Homo sapiens: one gene and its partners. The protein of the gene in region 1 interacts with the protein of each later gene in a pairwise test. Each region holds a gene or a part of one and is shown in the gene's direction. Other genes may lie near its edges.

Evidence for each region.
Region 2: the proteins of SWAP70 (region 1) and RAPGEF4 interact in a two-hybrid assay, tested with the Homo sapiens proteins (2 studies listed by BioGRID and IntAct).
Region 3: the proteins of SWAP70 (region 1) and CELSR3 interact in a two-hybrid assay, tested with the Homo sapiens proteins (one study listed by BioGRID and IntAct).

Annotation. Positions count from the first base shown.
Region 1 is NC_000011.10:9,736,744-9,744,513, forward strand, and holds part of SWAP70 (switch-associated protein 70), read left to right. Parts: intron 1-1,469; coding exon 1,470-1,577; intron 1,578-3,437; coding exon 3,438-3,604; intron 3,605-7,770.
Region 2 is NC_000002.12:173,011,609-173,019,378, forward strand, and holds part of RAPGEF4 (rap guanine nucleotide exchange factor 4), read left to right. Parts: intron 1-2,855; coding exon 2,856-3,006; intron 3,007-4,740; coding exon 4,741-4,829; intron 4,830-5,565; coding exon 5,566-5,596; intron 5,597-5,817; coding exon 5,818-5,896; intron 5,897-7,047; coding exon 7,048-7,194; intron 7,195-7,770.
Region 3 is NC_000003.12:48,652,353-48,660,122, reverse strand, and holds part of CELSR3 (cadherin EGF LAG seven-pass G-type receptor 3 precursor), read left to right. Parts: coding exon 1-1,236; intron 1,237-2,774; coding exon 2,775-3,425; intron 3,426-3,757; coding exon 3,758-3,983; intron 3,984-4,271; coding exon 4,272-4,387; intron 4,388-4,728; coding exon 4,729-4,817; intron 4,818-4,921; coding exon 4,922-5,079; intron 5,080-5,670; coding exon 5,671-5,834; intron 5,835-6,119; coding exon 6,120-6,245; intron 6,246-6,334; coding exon 6,335-6,504; intron 6,505-6,935; coding exon 6,936-7,121; intron 7,122-7,569; coding exon 7,570-7,686; intron 7,687-7,770. UniProt on the Homo sapiens protein: Receptor that may have an important role in cell/cell signaling during nervous system formation.

The DNA of each region.
Region 1 (7,770 bases):
GTTCACTAATTTTGTTCTGTTGTTCTCCATAATGCCCTGGAACCTGAATTGCCTCACAGTCTGAGATCATTTAAATTCAGGCCTACATGTAGTCTTTAAGGTCAGTCTTTGAGACTTGTTCCTACTACATGAGAACTCTTCTTAGCTGTCTCTTTCTCTGGTTCTGTCTGTCAGACGTTTGGCTGGTCTGGAAGAGCAGTGGCTCACACCTGTTAATCACTTTGGGAGGACAGGGTGGGAGGATCACTTGAGGCCAGGAATTTGAGACCAGCCTGGGCAACATAGCGAGACCTCATAGCAGTCAACCAACAAACCAACAACACTTTTAGCTGGTCCGTGTGTTAGTGTGTTGTTCTCATGGAGCTTCTGGCCTCCTCTTAATTCTCAGCCACTCTTGCCTGGAATAAAGTTTCTGCAACATGCAGCTGGGGACAAAGAGAAATTCTGGCAGCCAGCCTGCCCCTCCCAGGAAGGTATCATAGCCCTAGGCTTGAGCTGAGGGGAGGGGAACCCTTGTTTGGGGTTCCATCTGCCAGGAGAAGAGCTTTCTTCTCACTGACACTGTGGGGGTGGGGAGGGAGTGCATCATATGCCACAGACCCTCACGATTCTTACTGAGAGTTAGATTTTCTTAGATAAATGTTCTCCATTTTAGAATGTCCTTAGCATAATTTCTAGAGACTTTTAAAGGTTTTGTTTTTTTAACAATAATTTTCACCAGTTATGGTTGTTTTGTTGGGGAAAGGGTCTGTGGAGCTCCTTATGCCACCCTTCTAGAAATTGGTTCTGGTAAAAGTTATAATGAATAATGTATAAGATGAAAAAACTGTACAGAAAGAGCTCAAGAAATAGCTCTCAAATCTCATGAATGTGGCTGGGCATGGTGGCTTACACCTGTAATCCCAGCACTTCGGGAGGCTGAGGTGGGCGGATCACGAGGTCAAGAGATCGACACTATCCTGGCCAACATGATGAAACCCCGTGTCTACTAAAAATACAAAAATTAGCTGGATGTGGTGGTGTGTGCCTGTAGTCCCGGCTACTCGGGAGGCTGAGGCAGGAGAATCACTTGAACCTGGGAGGTGGAGGTTGCAGTGAGCCGAGATCGTGCCACTGCACTCCAGCCTGGCGACAGAGCAAGACTCAGTCTCAAATAAATAAATAAATAAATAAAAATCTCATGAATGCAATCCCAAGTGAATTTAATTCAATGACTGTACTAAAACTTTCTTTGCAAAATGTTGTTCAGGCTTATCAATAGTCTTTCATTTACCTAATTTATTTTGTATGTTGATTCAGCAGATCGTTAGACTGGAATTCTAATGGAGCTAAAAGTTTTTATTCTATTATCTTTATTGAATGTTAAGAATGTTTGGCTTTTCCTGTACTTAAGTATGACTGTCTCTCTCTCTTTAATGTACTTCTACTCTAACACCTGCTTTTCTGTGGATGGGTTTTTGATTGGCTAGAAACTGGAGGAAGCAGCATCTCGTGCAGCAGAAGAGGAAAAGAAACGCCTTCAGACTCAAGTGGAACTTCAGGCCAGGTTCAGCACAGAGCTGGAAAGAGAGAAGCTTGTGAGTATCACATGGCTGGAGAAAGCAGCTGCAGTAGCTCAGCCTGGGTCGGTGGGAACAGGGAAGGGCTGGAGGCTACAGTGAGGCATGTCATCAGCTTGGCTTTGCTACTGACCTGGAATGGGCTGTAGGGGAAGTTGCATGTTTGTTCATTCATTAATTATCTGTTTATTGAACACCTTCTATGTGCCAGGCAGTGTGCCAAAGATGTAATGGCAAAAGACATAAACCTTGTTTTCAAGACTCCTAAGTGGAAATTTATGGAGCCAGGCATGGTGGCCCACTCCTGTAATCCCAGCACTTTGGGAGGCCAAGGCATGAGAATTGCTTGAGCCCAGGAGTTCAAGACCAGCCTGGGCAATATCTACAAAAAAAAAAAAAAAAAAAAGAATTAGCCAGGCCTGTTGGTACATGCCTGTAGTTCCAGCTACTTAGGAGGCTGAGGTGGGAGGATTGCTTGAGCCCAGGAGTTCAAGGCTACTGTGAGCTGTGATTTTGCCACTGCACTCCAGCCTGGGTGACAGAGCAAGGCCCTGTCTCCAAAAAAGAAAAAAAAAGAAATTTGTGGAATGATGTGATAAATGCTTGGTTAGGGTGACTATATTTCCTGGTTTGCCTGGGAGAGTCCCTGCCATTCTGGTATAATTATTAATAACATTCCTTTTCATTCTCAAAACAGTTCTGATTTGGAAAATAAATAGTTATGGAAAAAGTAAGCATAGGTTCCATGGTATATCTCCTCTGTAATAAGCAAGGATGGCGGGGGTGAGATCCTGAAATTGTGAGAACATCTAGAGTCTGATTTGTTGCTCTTGGCAGCTCCGGTTCATCCTAGAGGCTTCCATCTTCAAGAGACCCAAGATCCAGGTTGTCTTAGGTAGTTAGCTGGTTAGCTGGAACACAGGTCTTCTCACATTGAGTGATACTCTGTCAGAGAGTGCTAAGCCCAGTGCCTAAATAGATGCATGTGACATTTCCTCTAGTCACTTTTTGTTATTTAGAGTTGAAAGAGATGTGTTTGTGGTTCAGAGAAAAGAGGAAGGCAAATGTGATGTAGAGAAACAGCCAGAATGTCTGGTCTTGTTTCCTCTCTGGTCCTTCTTACTGAACATTGGCTTTTTCTTCTTTAAGTTCAGGATTATCACATGCTCTCTCATGACTCTTCTGAAGACAGAGTGAGCTAATGCAAGTGAAAATATTTTATCAACTGCAGAGAAATAGGCTAATGTGTTTGTTATATTTAGGATGTTCTTGTCTTGTAATTTTTAAGGCAGGGATTCAAAACTCTGTAATCCAGAAGGGAAAAACCATTAACGTATACAGATTAACTGAAATGCTTGAGTTCCTCTAGGGCTGGAGGTGCCCCAGGGAGTGGAGACAGCCAGGGAAGTGTGGGAGGAATCCCATGCTGGATGACCTTTCCTTCTTCTTTAGTGTAACACTAAAGAAGACTGGGAAAAGGTTCGTTTGCTCTGACTGGGAAAAGGTTCGTTCCTTTTAGAGAAGACCCTATTGGTAAAAAGATTGTGACTTTAAGACAGAAAGGAATTTAGAGAGAAATTACACAAGGAAACATTTTTTTCTTGACTTGAGTCTTAAAATGTGGAGTGGAAGGGATGGAAAATACAGCAGGGCAGAACATAATTTGGGTTATAATTTGCTCTTCCCAGACTCTTTCACTATTGCGATTGGGTGTGGTACCCTCATCTCCTCCATCTTTAAGTTCAAGGATTGAAGGACAGGGTCCTGCCACCCTGATGGGCTGAGGCTGCAGCTGTGGGCAACCCCTCAGGTGGAGGTGAGGCTTTCCCTGAGAAAGAAGTCAACCTGCATTTAAACAAGACCCTTTTATACCAACAGATCAGACAGCAGATGGAAGAACAGGTTGCTCAAAAGTCCTCTGAACTGGAACAGTATTTACAGCGAGTACGGGAGCTGGAAGACATGTACCTAAAGCTGCAGGAGGCTCTTGAAGATGAGAGACAGGCCCGGCAAGATGAAGAGACAGTGCGGAAGCTTCAGGCCAGGTGCCAGATTTGTTTGCAGACTTTGCCTTTATGTACTTTGCCTGGGCTAATACAGTTTCTTGGAATGACTAACACTCTGGTGGAGAGGGAGAAGTGTCTCTGCTCTGGCTGTGACTGAGCTCGAGGTGCTGTCCAGATTAGAAAGACTGTGGAGACTCGACCGGCTGGAGTGTTTCTTTTCATTCTGAGGCGCTGGGAAACCCTTGCTTCTGGGGCTAAATAAGGGCCTATTTTAGAGCAGTCTGGTAGGTATGTTTGATGAGGTACCCTTAGTCTTATTCGAGAAAATCCACAAACCCAGAATTACCTCTGATAAGAGCTTGGCATCTTCAACACGCTCCAGACCAGAGAGGGCCATTGGTATGCAGGCAGAGGCCTGTTCAGGCCAACGTTGCCGTCAGGTTTTGAGGAATAAGGAAGAAATATGCAGTTTCTATTTGGTCATTCAGGATTGGTAACATTCCTTCAGTAATTACTACTTGAAATCCTAATTTTAAAAGTATTTGAAACCTAGATTTTTTTTCCCCTTAGAACTTTATGATAGTCATGTTCGCAGATGAAAATTCTCAATTTTGGGCCTTCATGGCAGCAGGGAGGACAAAATAAAATGAAGACTCCCAAAGGGAAAAATTGAGCCTATCCTCTGCCAGTTTCTACTTTGCTGCCCCATTTACATTATTTAAGGTGTCTGGGATGGGAGACAACACTAAAAAGTATTCACTACAGTAGCAGCACAGGGTCCAGTCTTTGATCTCTGACCCCCTGTTTTGGGGAGCAGTTATGAGATGAGCTAGGGTAGATTTTCCATGGCTGCCATTTTACATGTGGAGCAGCAAAAGATGTTTCTTTAATCTTTAGATAGGAAGAGAAAGAAGAAGCCATCTTTAGTTGTATATTTTGCCAAAAGTGACTTCAAAAATAAATAAATTGTTTTGGACATTTAGATTTTAAATTTAAATTTTTTTAAGGAAAAATTATTTTCTAAATAGAAAATTAAGCATGTAGCATATTGCCAGGCATATATAGGCCCCACAGGTGCACATTCACTGCACTGTGAGGTTAATCAGGTTCTTGGAACTCCCCTCCAGTGCCACTCGGCAGTGATTTTAGCAGAAGAGTCACTCTACGGGAATGTTTGAGTGCCATGTGACGTCCAGAGTGACGTTCTACATGACACTCAACATTTTTTGAGCCACCTCATAATTTGAGCCGTGTTGAGAGTTAATAGATTGTTTTTGTGCAAAGAATTCGCAGGTGAAATATGCTATATGTATTACTGCAGTTTTGTGGGAAGTTGATTATGACACAGCAGAGACTAGATCACAGAGGGAACCAGATAATTCTAGAAATACTAGTCTTAGTTATTTAGTGTTTATAGAATGAGTGATATTTTGAATAAGGGATAATTTTGGATAATTGAAGCCAGTGGTTTTTTAACCAATGTTATGTATCAGAATCACCTCACAAAGCTTCTGAAAAATACACCACAAAGTGTGGCTCACCCACCACACTTTGGGAGGCCGAGGCTGGAGGATCACTTGAACCCAGGAGTTTATGACCAGCCTGAGCAACATGGTGAAACCTCATCTTTAAAAAAAAAAAAAAAAAAAAGTCTACTTGGGAGGCTGAGGCAGGAGGATCACTTGAGTCCAGGAGGTTGAGGCTGCAGTGAGCTGCATTTGCACCACTGTACTACAGCCTGGGGGACAGAATGAGACCCTGTCTCAAAAAAAACACAAAACAACAACGGCAAAAAACTCCAGCTAATTATTTTGCACACTCTGATTTAAGCAATAGCAAAATGGTTTCAACCTTTTGAATCCAGATGTAACTTCTACATACAGCTCTGATCCAATATGCTGAAAGTACTGCACACAAATTTAACTTTTTCTTAATGTGCAAAGGGCATTTTATGAATATAATTATTTTATTATTCTAAATTTTTTTTTCTCTTAGTTTTTGGAACCTGAAATGGACAAATTTGCCCCCCTGCTCCCTTTTTTTTTCTGAGATGGAGTCTTGCTCTGTTATCAGGCTGGAGTGCAGTGGCGTGATCTCGGCTCACTGCAATCTCCGCCTCCTGGGTTCAAGCGACTCTCCTGCCTCAGCCTCCCGAGTAGCTGGGAGTACAGGCGCGCACCACCACACCTGGCTAATTTTTGTATTTTTAGTAGAGATGGGGTTTTGCCATGTTGGCCAGGATGGACTCCATCTCCTGACCTTGTGATCCGCCTGTCTCGGTCTCCCAAAGTGCTGGGATTACAGGCATGAGCCACCACGCCCGGCCTAGTGGTCATTTTTAAGTGAAATGTGTTCCTCTTTCCTGAAGTCACTGAAGGCTGTGGCTGATTCAGAGGGACTTTCTGTCAGATTGGCAGAGAGGGTTTGTTCTTTGCTCCTCAGGATAGGCCTTTCTGGATAGAAAAATCAAGGGAAGTCATCCTGGAGTTGGGTTGGAAAACTGGCACTAATGAAATGCACATAATCTTACGCCAAGGGCCTGTGTAAAAGGCTGCTCAGTTAACTCTTCTCACTCCTTTTTTTTTTTTTTTAATTTTATTATTATTATACTTTAAGTTTTAGGGTACATGTGCACAATGTGCAGGTTTGTTACATATGTATACATGTGCCATGCTGGTGTGCTACACCCATTAACTCGTCATTTAGCATTAGGTATATCTCCTAATGCTATCCCTCCCCCCTCCCCCCACCCCACAACAGGCCCCGGTGTGTGATGTTCCCCTTCCTGTGTCCAAGTGTTCTCATTGTTCAGTTCCCACCTATGAGTGAGAATATGCGGTGTTTGGTTTTTTGTTCTTGCGATAGTTTACTGAGAATGATGATTTCCAATTTCATCCATGTCCCTACAAAGGACATGAACTCATCCTTTTTTATGGCTGCATAGTATTCCATGGTGTATATGTGCCACATTTTCTTCATCCAGTCTATCATTGTTGGACATTTGGGTTGATTCCAAGTCTTTGCTATTGTGAATAATGCCGCAATAAACATACTTGTGCATGTGTCTTTATAGCAGCATGATTTATAATCCTTTGGGTATATACCCAGTAATGGGATGGCTGGGTCAAATGGTATTTCTAATTCTAGATCCCTGAGGAATCGCCACACTGACTTCCACAAAGGTTGAACTAGTTTACAGTCCCACCAACAGTGTAAAAGTGTTCCTATTTCTCCACATCCTCTCTAGCACCTGTTGTTTCCTGACTTTTTAATGATTGCCATTCTAACTGGTGTGAGATGGTATCTCATTGTGGTTTTGATTTGCATTTCTCTGATGGCCAGTGATGGTGAGCATTTTTTCATGTGTTTTTTGGCTGCATAAATGTCTTCTTTTGAGAAGTGTCTGTTCATGTCCTTCGCCCACTTTTTGATGGGGTTGTTTCTTTTTTTCTTGTAAATTTGTTTGCTCACTCCTTTCTTAAAGCAACAGCCGATCATTCGTGGAATATTTGGAATCTCATTATTCTTTTAATGGATAGTTCTTTCTCTGTCAGTCTCTTAAAAAGACAGTGTCTTAAAAAAAAAGAGAAACTTTTTATAGTAAATTGTTTAAATGAAAGACAAGAACTTTAGCTTGAAACACGTAGATCTTGTAATTTTTTTTTTTTTTTTGAGACGGAGTCTCGCTCTGTCACCCAGACTGGAGTGTAGTGGCGTGATCTCGGCTCACTGCAAGCTCTGCCTCCCAGGTTCAAGCCATTCTCCTGCCTCAGCCTCCTGAGCAGCTGGGACTACAGGCGCCTGCCACCACGCCCAGCTAATTTTTTGTATTTTTAGTAGAGACGGGGTTTAACCGTGTTAGCCGGGATGGTCTTGATCTCCTGACCTCGTGATCCACCCGCCTCGGCCTCCCAAAGTGCTGGGATTACAGGCTTGAGCCACTGCACCTGGCCAGATCTTGTAATTTTAAAAATTACGATTGAAGTTTTTTATTAACTTTTAATTTTTGTGGGTACACAGTAGGTGTTTATATTTGTGAGGTACATGAGATATTTTGATACAGGCATACAATGTGTAATAATCACATCAGGGTAAATGGGGTATCCATCACCTCAAGCATTTATCCTTAGTCTTACAAACAGTCCACTATACTGTTTTAGTTAGTTTTAAATGTACAATTAAATTATGATTGACTATAGTCACCC
Region 2 (7,770 bases), on another chromosome or scaffold:
AACATGTTGTCCAATGTAATATTTCAGATGAATAGGACTGTGCCCATTGTATCACCAGAACCTAGCATGGTGCTTTACTCAAAGTAGTCGGTTAATTAATAATTAGTGAATCAATTGGATCAATTTGAATAGTTTCTTTGCCTAAGTACTTGTAAAGCATTTTGATGTATTTTCTCTGAAAAGCATATTAATTCATTTGAAAATATATTTATTTCTTAAAAACCACATTAGCAGACTCCGTCTCAAAAAAAAAAAAACCACATTAGCACCTTAATTGTCCTATCTTGGGGTTATTTTTCTAAATTGAGGCTAAGTGTTCACCACTCTATTACTACCAGCTCAGTAAAAGCTTCCCTTTCCTCTCTATGCTGTTTCCATCTTTGAGTGATTCAAAATATGCTCATGTTGCATGTGTAGTGAAATATTTTTAAGATTGTAGTTTATAGAGTAACTTAGGGCACAGTGTGACATTCTTTTAAATTGGCATGATCTGAGAGAGAATTAAATTTGCTCATTTTTCACAGTACAAGGCCATCAGAAAGGTTGTCTTTCACAGGCACTATCACTTAGACTTAGAAGAGGGACTAGAGGGAAGAAGCCTAGCCTCAGGTACCCGGTGAGGAACACGCATGGTCCATAGTGGCATCAGGATATTTGGGACAGCAGTCTAGGGAGCGAGCCCAGCCTAATGGGAGCTTTGACACATACCGTACTCAGAATTCAGAATCTCCACTGACTCTTACATTTATAGGGGTTGGCATTCCTCAGCCCACACCCCTACTCCCCACCTTGGCCATTCTTACTTTCTCCATTTGGCTCCTATGCCATGGAAATGAAAAAGATAGCACCTGCCAAAGCCTGATGTCATCCAAGTTTCTGCACAAACACAAGATACCATAAAACTAAACCAAAGAAAGCACAGTGGCAACGTAGCATTGTATTTTCATTATGTTAGTTTGTGGCACCTATCTGATTCTCCTTCGGTTCACCTTGCCTTAGCGTTATTAAATGCGGTAGCTGAAAGAGAATTTGGAAATGATTTCTTCTCACCTCCTCATTTCATGGAGAGTAAATGGAAGTCTACAGTGGCTAAGTGACTTACACAATATCACATAGCTAAATGGTGGCAGCTAGAGGACTTGAACCCAGATCCTCCCACTCTCGGGTGAACCAGTACATATTTTTCAATCAGTCAAGACTTTCCTATTTGGTACCTACCATGCATCTGACTATGCTCCTACGTGCCATTAAAAAATGGTCATAAAATATAATGTCCAGCATTGCAACTCTTTGGAAAGAAAAACTCAGTTATAAATGCATGCAAGCAAGAGACCAAAGAGTTAATCAGAAAAGAAATAATTTTCACATAAAGCGATCTTTCTTCCTTTCTTCATTGTGAGCTGAGAGAGGATTGTAGCAATACAGGTTGAGCAATTTTCTTTTTTATGAATCTCGTGCTCAATTTATGAAAGCCATTTTGCAACCCATTTACATGCAGTAAACCTTTGCCTTAAAGTTCTGTCATTTACCTTGATCATGATTATTTATAGTCCTTTTAGACAAGGCTCTTTACTGGTTTAGCTCTCAAGCACAGCACTGTCACAAGCCAGTTTTCTACGTCTTTCAAGGCAGGGTAGGAAGCTAAGACAGGGCCAGTCTTGTAGCTCGCTGTGAGGAATGGGGGCTTTGGGTAATGGGAAGAACACTAGTTGGCATCAGGAGTCTTGCATTCGCAACCTCTGCACTCTCACTCTGTAATCCTGGCCATTTATGCTTCTTTAGTTTCAGTTTGTTCACTTATAGAAATGGAGCGACACTTTCATCACAAGGCTATAAAGTGGAGTTGAAGTGAAGTACTTTGTGTGCAAGTTATATTGTAAATAGTGAAGAGTAAGTTGTTTTATGAACTAATTATCTATAATATGAACTATAAATCATTGAAAAAGGAATGGTGTGTCTAACCTAAAATATTTCTTGATTACCTGTGATGTTGTGCCTCCTGTAGAGCATACAAGAATGGACCAGGGACCTTTACTCTTGGCACATAGGAGACTCTCAATCAGTACTTGTTGCATTAATGAATAAATACAGTTTCTGGGTGAAAGTCAGTATCCTAGGCGTAGTGTAGAATACAGGACAAATGACCATCATCCCAAGCCTCAAGGTGCTTACAATTAAGATGGTAGCCATAAATGTGCAAAGAGCCAGTAAGGTAAGTCATGGTTCTACACAAGAGAAGAAGATATGGTGTAAAAATGTGTCTGAGGCCCTCACCAGAGAATTGGTACAGCAGGAGCCTTTCCTCTTCCTACCTCTGGGTGAGTTTATCTACCTCCAGCCTCTCTTGCCCACCCATGCACTCTTTGTATCAGCCATGGTCCCAGCAGGACTAGATGCCCTGCTGGGCATTCAGTTTTACTGAAATGCATGTAACAAAGGGGATTACAGAGATTCGGGCAGAATTTTGGAAACCAACAACGGGTGGAAATGCACCCAGAGAGAAGCAATGGCAAGAAACATTACCACCCAGAGTAGCAAAGGGCAAGGCAGATCCTGGCAGAGAATGACAGCTAGAGCTAGACACAAGAATCCTTGTCCACACCAAGTCCAGGAGGAGTCTGTGAAAGTCTAATCCCTTGGGCAACTATCAGGCCAGAGTCAGCAGGAGTAAACAAGGAATTGCATGCATTCGGCACAGACACTTTCTGTGGGGTTTTTCATGAGGGCCTAGGGGAGGAATTCTATCCATCTAAAAGCCTGGCTTTCTGAAGCTGGGATCTGTCACTCTTTACCTTTGAAAGTAGCATGTGAAATGAGTGTGAAATGGCTCAATTTCTTCCTTGACTCCTCGGCACCTACCACGCACAGCCTTCACAAGGTACAGAACAGGAGAAAATGGATTATGCCCTCAACAATAAGAGGCGAGTCATCCGCCTGGTTCTACAGTGGGCTGCCATGTATGGAGACCTCCTGCAAGAGGATGACGTGTCTATGGCCTTCCTGGAGGTAGGCAGGGGTCATCTCTTCCAAGAATATACTGTTGTCCTGCAATACAGGGACCTACTTATAGGCTCAGCAGCTTCCCTGGAGAGACCGTAATTGCAAATGCTAGACTTTGTGAACACATTCATTCATCAGAAAGGAACTACAGAAAAAGTAAGGAAAAAATTTACCCATTATTCTGCCATTCTGACTCCCTAATGGGTAGCATTTTCATGTATTTTCATCTAGTCTCTTTTTCTTTGTATGTTTTATCTTGTAGTCACGTAGCACCCATCATTCTGCAGGCTGCTTTTTCCATTTATTTGATATAAGGATTTTTCTGTCAGTACAGTCCTTATAATAAAAATTTATTTACATCTCCTGAAGTAATCAAAAAAATATCTAATGACCATTGAGTAGCCATGTCACAGATATATTTATGTGTTCCCTTATTGTTGAGTGTTCACATCATTTCCAGTTTTCACCTTCCTAGAATAGTAGTACGGTAAAAAGTCTTGTGCAAGTGATTCTGTCCTTGATTACCTTCCTAGAAATGGGATTACTAGATCAAATGGTAGATATTTTTGAGTGGAGTGGAGCAGATCATTTATTTAGGAATTGCTAGAACTGGAAATGGTAGGCTGTGAAAGTGGTTCATAAACACTGTTGAAAGCTGCACTTCCCCGTTCCTTCCCGTAGCTCTAGCCCCAAATTACAGCACTGATTCTGACATTTAAGCTCAATTAGTCGCTCTCCCCTCCAAAATTTGGATGAAGACCTGACTTCTGTTCAGGCAAAAGGCAATGTTACTTCCGTTTCAAACTTTTTCAGTCTGTGTTCTAAAATTATAAATTATCCAAAAGAAACATACACCGTCTCTCCTTTCTATTCATATCATTTCACAGCCAGAGGTGCGAGGCAGTGAGGAAAGATGGACCGAGAGCATCCCTCCAAGCTGAGGAATGAAGTATTTTGAAAATGCGAGGAATGGCGGTAGCTTGGGGTCATACATTGACTCATGGCCTCTACCCGCTGAGTACAGGACCATTTTGTAGATGAACTAAAGTGGTGGTGTAGCTGGCACTGCCATGGTTCTCACCTTCTGCTGCAGAGCAGGCACACCTACAGCTGCAGGGTCAGGACAGTTCCCAGAAGGGCATCAGAGAGTCCTGAGTTGGTGGCACAAACTCATCATAAATTCGCTACAGTGCTGAAGACCATGCTGCATCTTACCACCAACCATGACCCAGAATGAGTGACACCTAGTCAATAAACAATACATACCAAAATAATGTGAAAACGAACATTAAAATTCCCCTGAGAAAAATGAACTAAAAAAAGCACTCTTTTGTGGACTCCAAAATGACCCATTTCAAAACATTGGCTTTCATATAAATATCATATAAACAGTTCACCTGCAATTTACTTTGAATTGAATTTTTATTGTTGTAAAATAGATATCTAATATAAATTTTCCCATTGTAACCATTTTTAGGTGTATAGTTCAGTGGCATTCATTTCATTTCTGATATCCGTGCAGTCATTGATTGCCACTATTTCCAAAATTTTTTCTCATGGCCAATTTTGAACTTAGACATAGTGTAACATTTTCTTCTTTGTTCTTCCTCCAGTCCATGAAGCCATGGTCTGGAGATGCTGGTGAAGCAGATGACATAGGGACACATCTTTATTGCTCTTGACAGAATCATGTGCCTTTTGCAGTTCTTGTTAAAAGCCTGTGACTTTTGCCAATTACAGGAGTTTTATGTATCTGTATCAGATGATGCCCGGATGATTGCTGCCCTCAAGGAGCAACTGCCAGAGTTGGAGAAGATTGTCAAGCAAATGTAAGGAAGGGCTTGACTGTGGGGGTGTGCTTTCATCAAGTAAATCTCAAAAAGTCCTTTGCCCACAAGAAAGGTTAAAGCTGGTCTTTCCATAGCCATGCCCCGCTTGATTTGATTTAAGCAGACTGGGCTGAGGGCATAGGTGGTGCAGTAAGGCCAGAGGAACAGAAGGACTGAGATTCTGTTCATTCTGTGCTAGAGGGCTGCCAAAAGATAGCCTGGGAAAGAAAAGATCCTCCTGGGTGGAGTCCAACTCAATAAACCTGGGTCCCTTAGGTTCAAGGCAGTGAATCTGGCAATAAAATGGCCAGCGGCATTTAAAGAAAGTTTGAGGGCAACTACTTATATGGAAAATTCACTAACTGCTGCCAAAGCTGTTGGTGGTGAATATTTGTGTCCTCTCAATGAACCAGAAGGTTTTCACATGCTATTACTTGAACTATAGATTAAATGCAGTATCAGAGAGTGAGTGTGCTGCTAGATAGACTTTGAAAGCTAGAAATCCTGGCTTTGAACATCGGTTCTGCCAGGAATCTGCCTGTGACAAGAGCTGATATCTTTGCTGTCTACCCTTCTGCTTTGATCTATTACTATTAAAATGAGGAAGCTCATATTGTCTCCTGAAAGGATTCTGTGATTGTGATTTCATTTTCTAACATAAGATTAGTTATATACAAATAAGGCAATTTAATAGTAGCAATGGTATTAAATAATGTGCTTTCTCTACTTCTCGTAGCTCAGAAGATGCAAAGGCACCACAAAAGAAGGTAGGTGGCATGAACTTGCATTCTCTGTCTGTGTCCTGTAGAATTACAATTCCCCAGAAATATTATATTGCAGTATACATAAAAGTGATTTCTTTTTTGTAGACGTGAAATATATTGTCTTCATTTCTTGACTCTGCTTGCTTCTCAGATGTGTCTTCTCTGAGATGCTAGCATGCATTGGTCACTGTCCCTTATGGCACTTGCTGTGGTTGTTTTTACAGCACAAGGTTCTTTTGCAACAGTTCAATACGGGCGATGAGAGAGCCCAGAAGCGCCAGCCTATCCGCGGCTCTGATGAAGGTGAGAACCCTCTTCCAACTAACTCGTAGTTGTATAGATTATTTAGTCAGGATAATGGTAAGCATCACCTTGGACCCACAGAATAGCTTCTTTTGAAGATGCCCTGTTGCCCTCCAGATGGTTTGCTTGGAGGTGCCCTTTGGTGGCCCGATTATTTATGTCCTTAAACTCTTGTGCCTGAAGCCGAGATGCCTGTCTACCTTTCCCTGATTTGGCCTCTCCCTGCTTAACCCCTTTCCTTGGAGGAAATGAAGATGATCTCAGGGCCTGGTTGTCAGGATTGCCCACCCCTGGGAAAAGCTGGTGGGAAGGTAGCTGGCGCCTAGTGGGTGCCAAGGAGACAATGGATCACCAGCATCCTGCCCAGGGACAATGCTCTGGCCCTGAGCCCAGCCCTGAGCAGGGAGGCTTTACATCAGGAAGATCAAGATGCTGGCTTTTGTTTGGTTATTTAAGATTCTCCAAAGAATCACAACCAAAAATAGTCACAATAATAATGATAAAAATTTCATTTAAAGCTATAAATAAATCTTGTCATTTAGGACTGCCTCTAAACCCAGGAATTATAATATAATAATGGGAATTGCTCCCAGGATTTTTGTGTTCAGAGTTGAGCCTCTGGGTGCCATATCCAGATCTGCTGATCTAAGTCTGCTGAGCTAAATAGCATCCGAGCTTACATGGCCTGGCCCCAAAGCACACAAGCCACTGAAGCAAGTGAGCAGGAGTGTCAGCACGTGCTCATGGCCCAGGCGGAAGCCCTCCTGTGTGCAGAGAGGTGAATGGTGTCTCCCCACTGCCACACAGGGTAGCAGTGATCTGTGAATTGCCTACAGTATAGCACTTCAGACCCTGAACATCAGCCTGAAGATACTCTCAATTTTTTCCCATGACCTCTTTGTGGGGTTTTCACCAATATCTCTTGTTCTTTTAATTGGACTTGGCAACCATATGTGCACCTATTCTTAGACCAATGCTAAGGTAAGCAGTTTAGAAGGGGCAGGAATAGGGGTAAATGAGTATGAATAAATACAGTAACAAAAATGGCAAAATGATGCAAATTGGAGAGGATGCCTAAACATTTTTCATAACTATAGTTTTATTGAAAACTCTTAAGAGTGATTTACTACCTTGTTACTGCCTTTGGATAGTTCTGTTTAAGGTCTATTGCATGGACCACACCTACACAACCATTCGGGTGCCAGTGGCCACTTCGGTGAAGGAAGTCATCAGTGCAGTTGCCGACAAGCTGGGCTCCGGGGAGGGCCTGATCATAGTCAAGATGAGTTCCGGAGGAGGTAACAGTCTTAATTCATATTTTAGGCTCTGCAAAATGGGACATTCCATCCAAGCAGAAACTATGTAAGGAGTTAGCGTGGTCATGTGAGGCTCACCCAGAGGATGAACTGGTGCTTATGTATGCTTCCACTAATAACAGAAACAGTATGGGTAGAGGTGGGTTGGGTTTCTAATGTCCCCTATCTGGTAGGTACCCACTCTAAATCAGAAAGGTGACTGGAACTGAGGACTGTCGTGTAGATGTTGGCCTGGAGTTCTTTCAATTTAAACTCTATTCAAAAAAGTTTTAGGCCTTGGAGCCCTGAAAAATATGGGCCCCAAGAGGAAATCTAGCTGGACAAGCTCAAGGCCATGGGTTTCTACAAGTCCAAAGTTGGAAGTGGTCAGAAGCTAGTTCTTTGAAGCTGATGATGGTTTTTCTCCTTACTCAGTAGAGAGGCTAGGAGCCTGGCTCAAATGAAATGAGGAATATTTTTCCTCCACGGGATTACAGTTCCTTTCACTGTCCTTGATTACATGGTGCATTTTTGAAATGTCATTTATTCGTTCATCACATATTTACTGGCCACAGTGTG
Region 3 (7,770 bases), on another chromosome or scaffold:
TTCATGATCACTGCTATGTGCACATCAACATCACAGATGCCAACACTCATCGGCCGGTCTTTCAAAGTGCCCACTACTCAGTGAGTGTGAATGAAGATCGGCCAATGGGTAGCACCATAGTGGTCATCAGTGCCTCTGATGATGACGTGGGTGAGAATGCTCGTATCACCTATCTCCTGGAGGACAACCTGCCCCAGTTCCGCATTGATGCAGACTCAGGAGCCATTACATTACAGGCCCCATTAGACTATGAGGACCAGGTGACCTACACCCTGGCTATCACAGCTCGGGACAATGGCATCCCACAGAAGGCAGACACTACTTATGTGGAGGTGATGGTCAATGACGTGAATGACAATGCTCCACAATTTGTGGCCTCCCACTATACAGGGCTGGTCTCTGAGGATGCCCCACCTTTCACCAGTGTCCTGCAGATCTCAGCCACTGACCGGGATGCTCATGCCAATGGCCGGGTCCAGTACACTTTCCAGAATGGTGAAGATGGGGATGGAGATTTTACCATTGAGCCCACCTCTGGAATTGTCCGTACAGTAAGGCGGCTAGACCGGGAGGCAGTATCAGTGTATGAGTTGACTGCCTACGCAGTGGACAGAGGTGTGCCCCCACTCCGGACTCCAGTCAGTATCCAGGTGATGGTGCAGGATGTGAACGACAATGCACCTGTCTTCCCAGCTGAGGAGTTTGAGGTGCGGGTGAAAGAGAATAGCATTGTGGGCTCAGTGGTGGCCCAGATCACTGCAGTGGACCCTGACGAAGGCCCCAATGCCCATATAATGTACCAGATCGTGGAGGGGAACATCCCTGAGCTGTTCCAAATGGACATCTTCTCTGGAGAACTGACGGCACTCATTGACCTAGACTATGAGGCTCGCCAAGAATATGTGATTGTGGTGCAGGCCACATCTGCTCCTTTGGTCAGCCGGGCCACTGTGCACGTCCGCCTGGTTGACCAGAATGACAACAGCCCTGTGCTCAACAACTTCCAGATCCTCTTCAACAACTATGTATCCAACCGTTCAGACACCTTCCCGTCGGGCATTATTGGGCGCATCCCAGCTTATGACCCCGATGTCTCCGACCACCTCTTCTACTCCTTTGAGCGTGGCAATGAGCTGCAGCTGCTGGTAGTCAACCAGACCAGTGGGGAGCTGCGACTCAGCCGAAAGCTAGACAATAACCGCCCACTGGTGGCCTCCATGTTGGTGACTGTCACAGGTGAGGGGCAGGGGGCAGGCAAGTGACCCAGTGACACCAACCTGTTGGGCCTCAGGGACTCCACAGGGCACCTCAAACCAAAGAGGGATTTCTAAGCCTTCCAAGAACCCCTTAAGGGTAGGGTTCCTGCACCCTACAAGATCTGCCACAGACCTCACAAGGACTCTGCTTAGGTTCCTGGATAATCTCCACAGAATCCCAGTGATTCCAAGGCATCTAGCAGACCCCATAAAGCCTGTAAAGAACTGTCTGCTACCTAGGGATATCTCCCCTCCTGATAAAAGGTCAGAGGTCCTGGGGTAATCCTCTGGAGGTCCTAGGCAAAGCCAGTATGGGCCAGTCAGTCCACACTATGCCCATGTTCAGACGAAGGGTTACTTTGGGTCCAGTCTGACGCTTACCCTATCTGTGCAGGAAATGACCAATACTTGAGTGGTCAGGAACAGCAGCTTACTATGGAAGCTTCAGGTGGACAGTGGCTTCGTAGGGCCTGAGACCCTGACCTTTGGGAAAATGTCCAGAGGTCCACTTGCCTCTTTCCTGCCCCATCTGCTCCAGTCTTTCAGAAACCCCTCCATAATAGGAGAGTGCAGGTGGGAGAGGCTCTTGAAGTTCTGCCTACTGGAGGCTGCAGAGGTTGGGAAATAGGCTTCACTGGTGCTCATTCCTCAGTTCTGGAGCAGGGACTCCTGGCACTGCCTGAGAAGGCACAACCTTCATTTATCCCTCAACTCACTCAACAGTCTATCCTTATTGACCACCCAGTATGTGCTAGGGTGTGGGGACAAGACGAACAAGGCAGCTAAGCACCTCACCTTCATCTCTGGGGTGGTCACTGTGAAACCACAGGACCCAGGTCTGGAGTGGCGAGCAGGCTGCTAACTCAAGAATGCTGGTGTGTGTGTGTGTGTGTGTATGTCAGGGTTCAAGACCCCCCTGGAGCTTGATAACCCAGGATTCTGGAGGATGGCATTGAGTCTTCACTGGGCCAGGGCCCCTTCTAGTGTCATGGAAGAGCAATTTGCTGACCAAAAATAGGAGATAGGTGATCCCTGATCTGGAACCCTTCTTTTCTGGAGGGGGATGTTTTGCTGGTTCTGCTATGCTGGAGGAGGGGAGAAGGGAAAGGTGGCTGGGAATGAGTGGCCAGTGGCCCTAGCTCCTCTCTGTGTCCTGAGTTGGGGTGGCCTGCTGACCATGATAACTTGGGGAAGTGTGGGTTACTGAGTACTTAGGGTACTTGAGTGCTGTTGCGGGAGTGACTTGCTAACCCATGGGCACTGTGTGGGGTTGCTTGATCCTTGGCCCAGACCCCTCCGTGTATTGGGGATTGGGGGAGGAAGCAGCAGCTTTTTGACACCTTGATGCTGGGGGAGCTGGTGGTCACTAGCCCCAGACTCCCTTGTGTCCTGGTGGGGTCAGCCTGCTGACTTAGAGGTTCTGGGGGCCTAGGCTATCGCTGGCCCCAGCCCTCTTGTGTCCCAGGGAGGGGTGGCCACTGTCCCCAGGATGACCACTGCCCCTGCCCCCGCCTGCAGATGGCCTGCACAGCGTGACGGCGCAGTGTGTGCTGCGCGTGGTCATCATCACGGAGGAGTTGCTGGCCAACAGCCTGACCGTGCGCCTTGAGAACATGTGGCAGGAGCGCTTCCTGTCACCGCTGCTGGGCCGCTTCCTCGAGGGCGTGGCTGCGGTGCTCGCTACGCCCGCTGAGGACGTCTTCATCTTCAACATCCAGAACGACACAGACGTAGGGGGCACCGTGCTCAATGTGAGTTTCTCGGCGCTAGCTCCACGTGGGGCCGGGGCGGGCGCTGCAGGGCCCTGGTTCAGCTCCGAGGAGCTGCAGGAGCAGTTGTACGTGCGCCGGGCGGCGCTGGCGGCTCGCTCCCTGCTCGACGTACTGCCCTTCGACGACAACGTGTGCCTGCGAGAGCCCTGTGAGAACTACATGAAATGCGTGTCCGTGCTCCGCTTTGACTCGTCCGCGCCCTTCCTGGCCTCGGCCTCCACGCTGTTCCGACCCATCCAGCCCATCGCTGGCCTGCGCTGCCGCTGCCCGCCCGGATTCACGGGAGACTTTTGCGAGACCGAGCTCGACCTCTGCTACTCCAACCCATGTCGCAACGGCGGAGCCTGCGCGCGGCGCGAGGGAGGCTACACGTGCGTCTGCCGCCCGCGCTTCACCGGTGAGCAGGGCGCCGGGCCAGAGCTGGGGGAAGCACGGGCCAAGGCTGGGGGCGGGACCACAATGCGAGTGAGTACTGGGAGTCACTTCTGAGGCCACGGCCTGGTATGGACGCGCTTAGGCCAGAAGCCGTAGAGCGTGGCCGGAAGGGGCCGCCGCCGAGGCAGCGATGAGACTGGGGAGGGGGCGGGGCCAGACGGAAGGGGCGTGTCCACCGAAGAGGGCGACCTTTCGGGGGTCTTGGCACCCGGCCTCTGGGCGCGCGGTCTTTGAAGGGGCCGGAGCAGGGGCGGGCGTGGGCGTGACCGCCTCTGACCGCGGCTTGGCCCCCAGGAGAGGACTGCGAGCTGGACACCGAGGCCGGCCGCTGCGTGCCGGGCGTCTGCCGCAACGGGGGCACCTGCACCGACGCGCCCAACGGCGGCTTTCGCTGCCAGTGCCCGGCAGGCGGCGCCTTCGAGGGCCCGCGCTGCGAGGTGGCTGCGCGCTCCTTCCCGCCCAGTTCGTTCGTCATGTTTCGCGGCCTGCGGCAGCGATTCCACCTTACGCTGTCCCTCTCGTAGGTGCCCGCCCCGTGTCTGAGCGCCTCCCCGCCGCCCCCACCTACCCGCCCTGACTCAGATTCCTGACTGCCCCGTCCTGGCATCCCCATGAGACACCGCCCCTCCCCTGACGCCCCGCCCGGGGTCTCCTGACCTCGCTGCACCCGCGTCCCCCCGGTCGGTCCCGCCGTCCCTCGTCGCTTCCTCTCTCGCCCCAGCCCCTTCTCCTCGCAGGGATGGTGGGTGTGAAGTGGTACCCTGCTCCTGACGCTCCCACCCCCGCAACCCCCTCCCACCCCGCCCAGGTTCGCGACAGTGCAGCAGAGCGGGCTGCTCTTCTACAACGGGCGCCTGAACGAGAAGCACGACTTCCTGGCCCTGGAACTCGTGGCTGGCCAAGTGCGGCTCACATATTCCACGGGTGGGTGCCCCGGATGTGACGGCGAAAGGGTGCGTGTGTGCTGGAGGACGCAGGGCCCAAGTCCCCTCAGGTTTGCTTCACTGTGCACCTGAGCACACACTCCACGCCATGCAAGCCCTGAAGACCTAGCTCCTTGGCCATTCCCTGTGGGAAGGTCCCTCCCTCCAAGAAGTCTGTTTCTCCTGTCTGTTCAAAGGCACTCTGAGCCAGCCATTGTGGTCACCAGTGGGGGGACTGATCTGATGCATCCAGGGTGGCCCTGGGAATGGTTGTGCTTATATGACGGGTGGGATGGGGCGACTCCGCTGCTCCTGATGATTCCACATGCATCTCCCCTCCAGGTGAATCCAACACCGTGGTCAGCCCCACAGTTCCAGGGGGCTTGAGTGACGGGCAATGGCATACAGTGCATCTGAGATACTACAACAAGGTGGGGGCCATCCCTGGCATCGGGTATGAGGGGAGTTGGGATGCTGACTTCTGCTCCTCAGGGGTTACTGGGGGCACTGTTGACTGGTGTGCCTGCGTCTTCAGCCCCGGACAGATGCCCTAGGGGGTGCACAGGGCCCCTCCAAGGACAAGGTGGCTGTGCTAAGCGTGGATGATTGTGATGTGGCCGTGGCTCTGCAGTTTGGTGCTGAGATTGGCAACTACTCATGCGCGGCTGCTGGTGTGCAAACAAGCTCCAAGAAGTGAGGCCCCTGCCCCCTAGTCCCCTTGTCCCCTGCCTACCAAAGCCCACTCCAACCCTTCACATCCCATTCCTCATCCCATCCTGCCAAACTCTCCCATCTTTCCCCCAAACCACCAAGATTCCCCTCTCCTCTCAAAGACCCTGAAAGCCTACTCACCCTAGCCCCCAATCCTGTATTCCACCCCATACTCCCTCCTCCCACACACAGTCCCCAGGCAGTCCTCCAAAGCCTCCACCTCCCCACCCCAGTCTCACTAATGTCCCACATCCCCTCCGAGTCCCTTCATCTCATGTCCAGTCCCCCAGAGTCTTCACGTCTCCATCCCCTCCCCAGCCAGCCAGATGCCTCATTCTTTCATCATAGCTCTCAACCCCCATTCACCTACCTTTCCCCAGACCATCGGCCCATCACGGGTGCCCCTTTGCACCCCAACTGAAGTAAGATCCTAACTCCTTCCACAGCTCGGCCTTATTTTCCTCCCTCAATCACCCTACCCTCTGGGTCCTACCCCCCTGCTTCCTGTGGCCCCCCAGGAGCAACTCTACTCTGGCCCCAGTCCCACCAATGACCCAGACCCCTGATCCCCAGGTCCCTGGACCTGACGGGCCCTCTTCTTCTGGGAGGTGTCCCCAACCTCCCCGAGAACTTCCCCGTATCCCATAAGGACTTCATCGGCTGTATGCGGGACCTGCACATTGATGGCCGCCGAGTGGACATGGCGGCTTTTGTCGCAAATAATGGCACCATGGCAGGTAGGCCTGAAGCTTCCACCAGCCTAGCCCATGGCCCTGTCCCCATCATAGGGAGGAAGTGGAGGACTCCATACCTGACTTCAAGCCAGTCTCCTTTGGTGGCAAGCACCATGCTACAGCCCAGATTTTAGGGCCTGACTCTTACCAACCCCACTCATCGAAAGAAAATGGGAAATGGGGCTGAGATCTTGGTCTCTTTCAGCCCCTCTGGACACTAAAGTCCTGTCCAGCACTTGTGCCCCCCAACCCTTGTTCTCATGTCCGCCATGTGCTTTCCTCTCCCAGGCTGCCAAGCCAAGCTACACTTTTGTGACTCAGGCCCCTGCAAGAACAGTGGCTTCTGCTCGGAGCGCTGGGGCAGCTTCAGCTGCGACTGCCCTGTGGGCTTCGGCGGCAAAGACTGTCAGCTTAGTAAGTGGGCAGCATGGGGCAGAGGGGCCTGCAGGGTCAGATCTGTTCCTGGGGCAGGGGCTGTAACCCTGTTTCTCTTATCCACTCAGCTATGGCCCATCCCCACCATTTCCGTGGCAACGGCACACTGAGCTGGAACTTTGGAAGTGACATGGCTGTGTCTGTGCCATGGTACCTGGGGCTGGCATTTCGGACACGGGCAACGCAGGGGGTCCTGATGCAAGTGCAGGCTGGGCCACACAGCACGCTCCTTTGCCAGGTGTGTCCACCCTGCTCACCCCTATACCCTCAGTTCTCAGTCTCTTAGGCCGCCACTGACATTCTTGTGGGTTCAGGTTGGTCACACAGCATACTTTTCTGCCAGGTGTCCCAACCACACTTGACCCTGCTCTGGACCCTAGCCCTTGATTCTCTTTCCATCATTATATCCTCTGCAGGTGCAGGGCTCCAGCATAGCTCTCTCTTATGCAAGCTGCACCAACCCACCCACAACACCTGGTCCTATCCTCTGCCCCCTGACCCCATATCAGCAACATGATGTCCCCTGGCACAGTGCCCTTTGTGCCAGGTATAACCTTGACCCCACTGTTCTGACCTCTGATATTCCTGACCTCTGAGCCCTCTGATCTCACCTCCAAGTCCCAGCCCACATGGGGCTCTAACCCCAGGGCTATGCATCTCTGCCCACAGCTAGATCGGGGGTTACTGTCTGTGACAGTGACCAGGGGCTCGGGCCGTGCTTCCCATCTCCTTCTGGACCAGGTGACTGTCAGTGATGGCCGGTGGCACGATCTGCGGCTGGAGTTGCAGGAGGAACCAGGTGGCCGGCGGGGCCACCATGTCCTTATGGTCTCACTGGACTTTAGCCTCTTCCAGGTCTGGCCTCTGACCCCGGGGTAGTCTGTTCTCAGCCTTCCAACCAGATCCGCCTTATTTGACCCCACCTCTAGTCCAGCTCCTCTCAGTTCCCTCCACTGCACTGAGTCTGATGTTCTACCCCTAGTTCCCCACCATATATCCTTGCACTGAGCCCACCCACCAGCCAAGTTGGTCCACTCTCAAGCCCTCTTTGTGCCAGATTTGGGGCCTGGTCTTGGGGAACCTCTGTAGCCAGCACTTTGCCTGATTCCTAGAAGCCCCTTCTAGTCTCTGCCCCAGTCTCTACCCACCCCCGGTCAAAATCAAGCAATATTAAGGTCTACTGTGGGTCCAGGAGGGAGGGGGCAGCCTAGAAGGGCTAGAAGAAGGCCAAGACTGACTCTGGGCTATGACAGGGGTTCATCAGGCCCCTCTCCCTCAGTGCTGACTGCCCCACTTCCTCCAGGACACCATGGCGGTGGGGAGTGAGCTGCAGGGCCTGAAGGTAAAGCAGCTCCACGTGGGAGGCCTGCCCCCCGGCAGTGCAGAGGAGGCTCCTCAGGGTCTGGTTGGCTGCATCCAGGTGGGGGTCAGCATGGGAATGTGATATGGGGCATTAGGGTCAGGGGTCAGAAGTCAGGGGCTCCTTGGGACCTGAAAGGCAGTA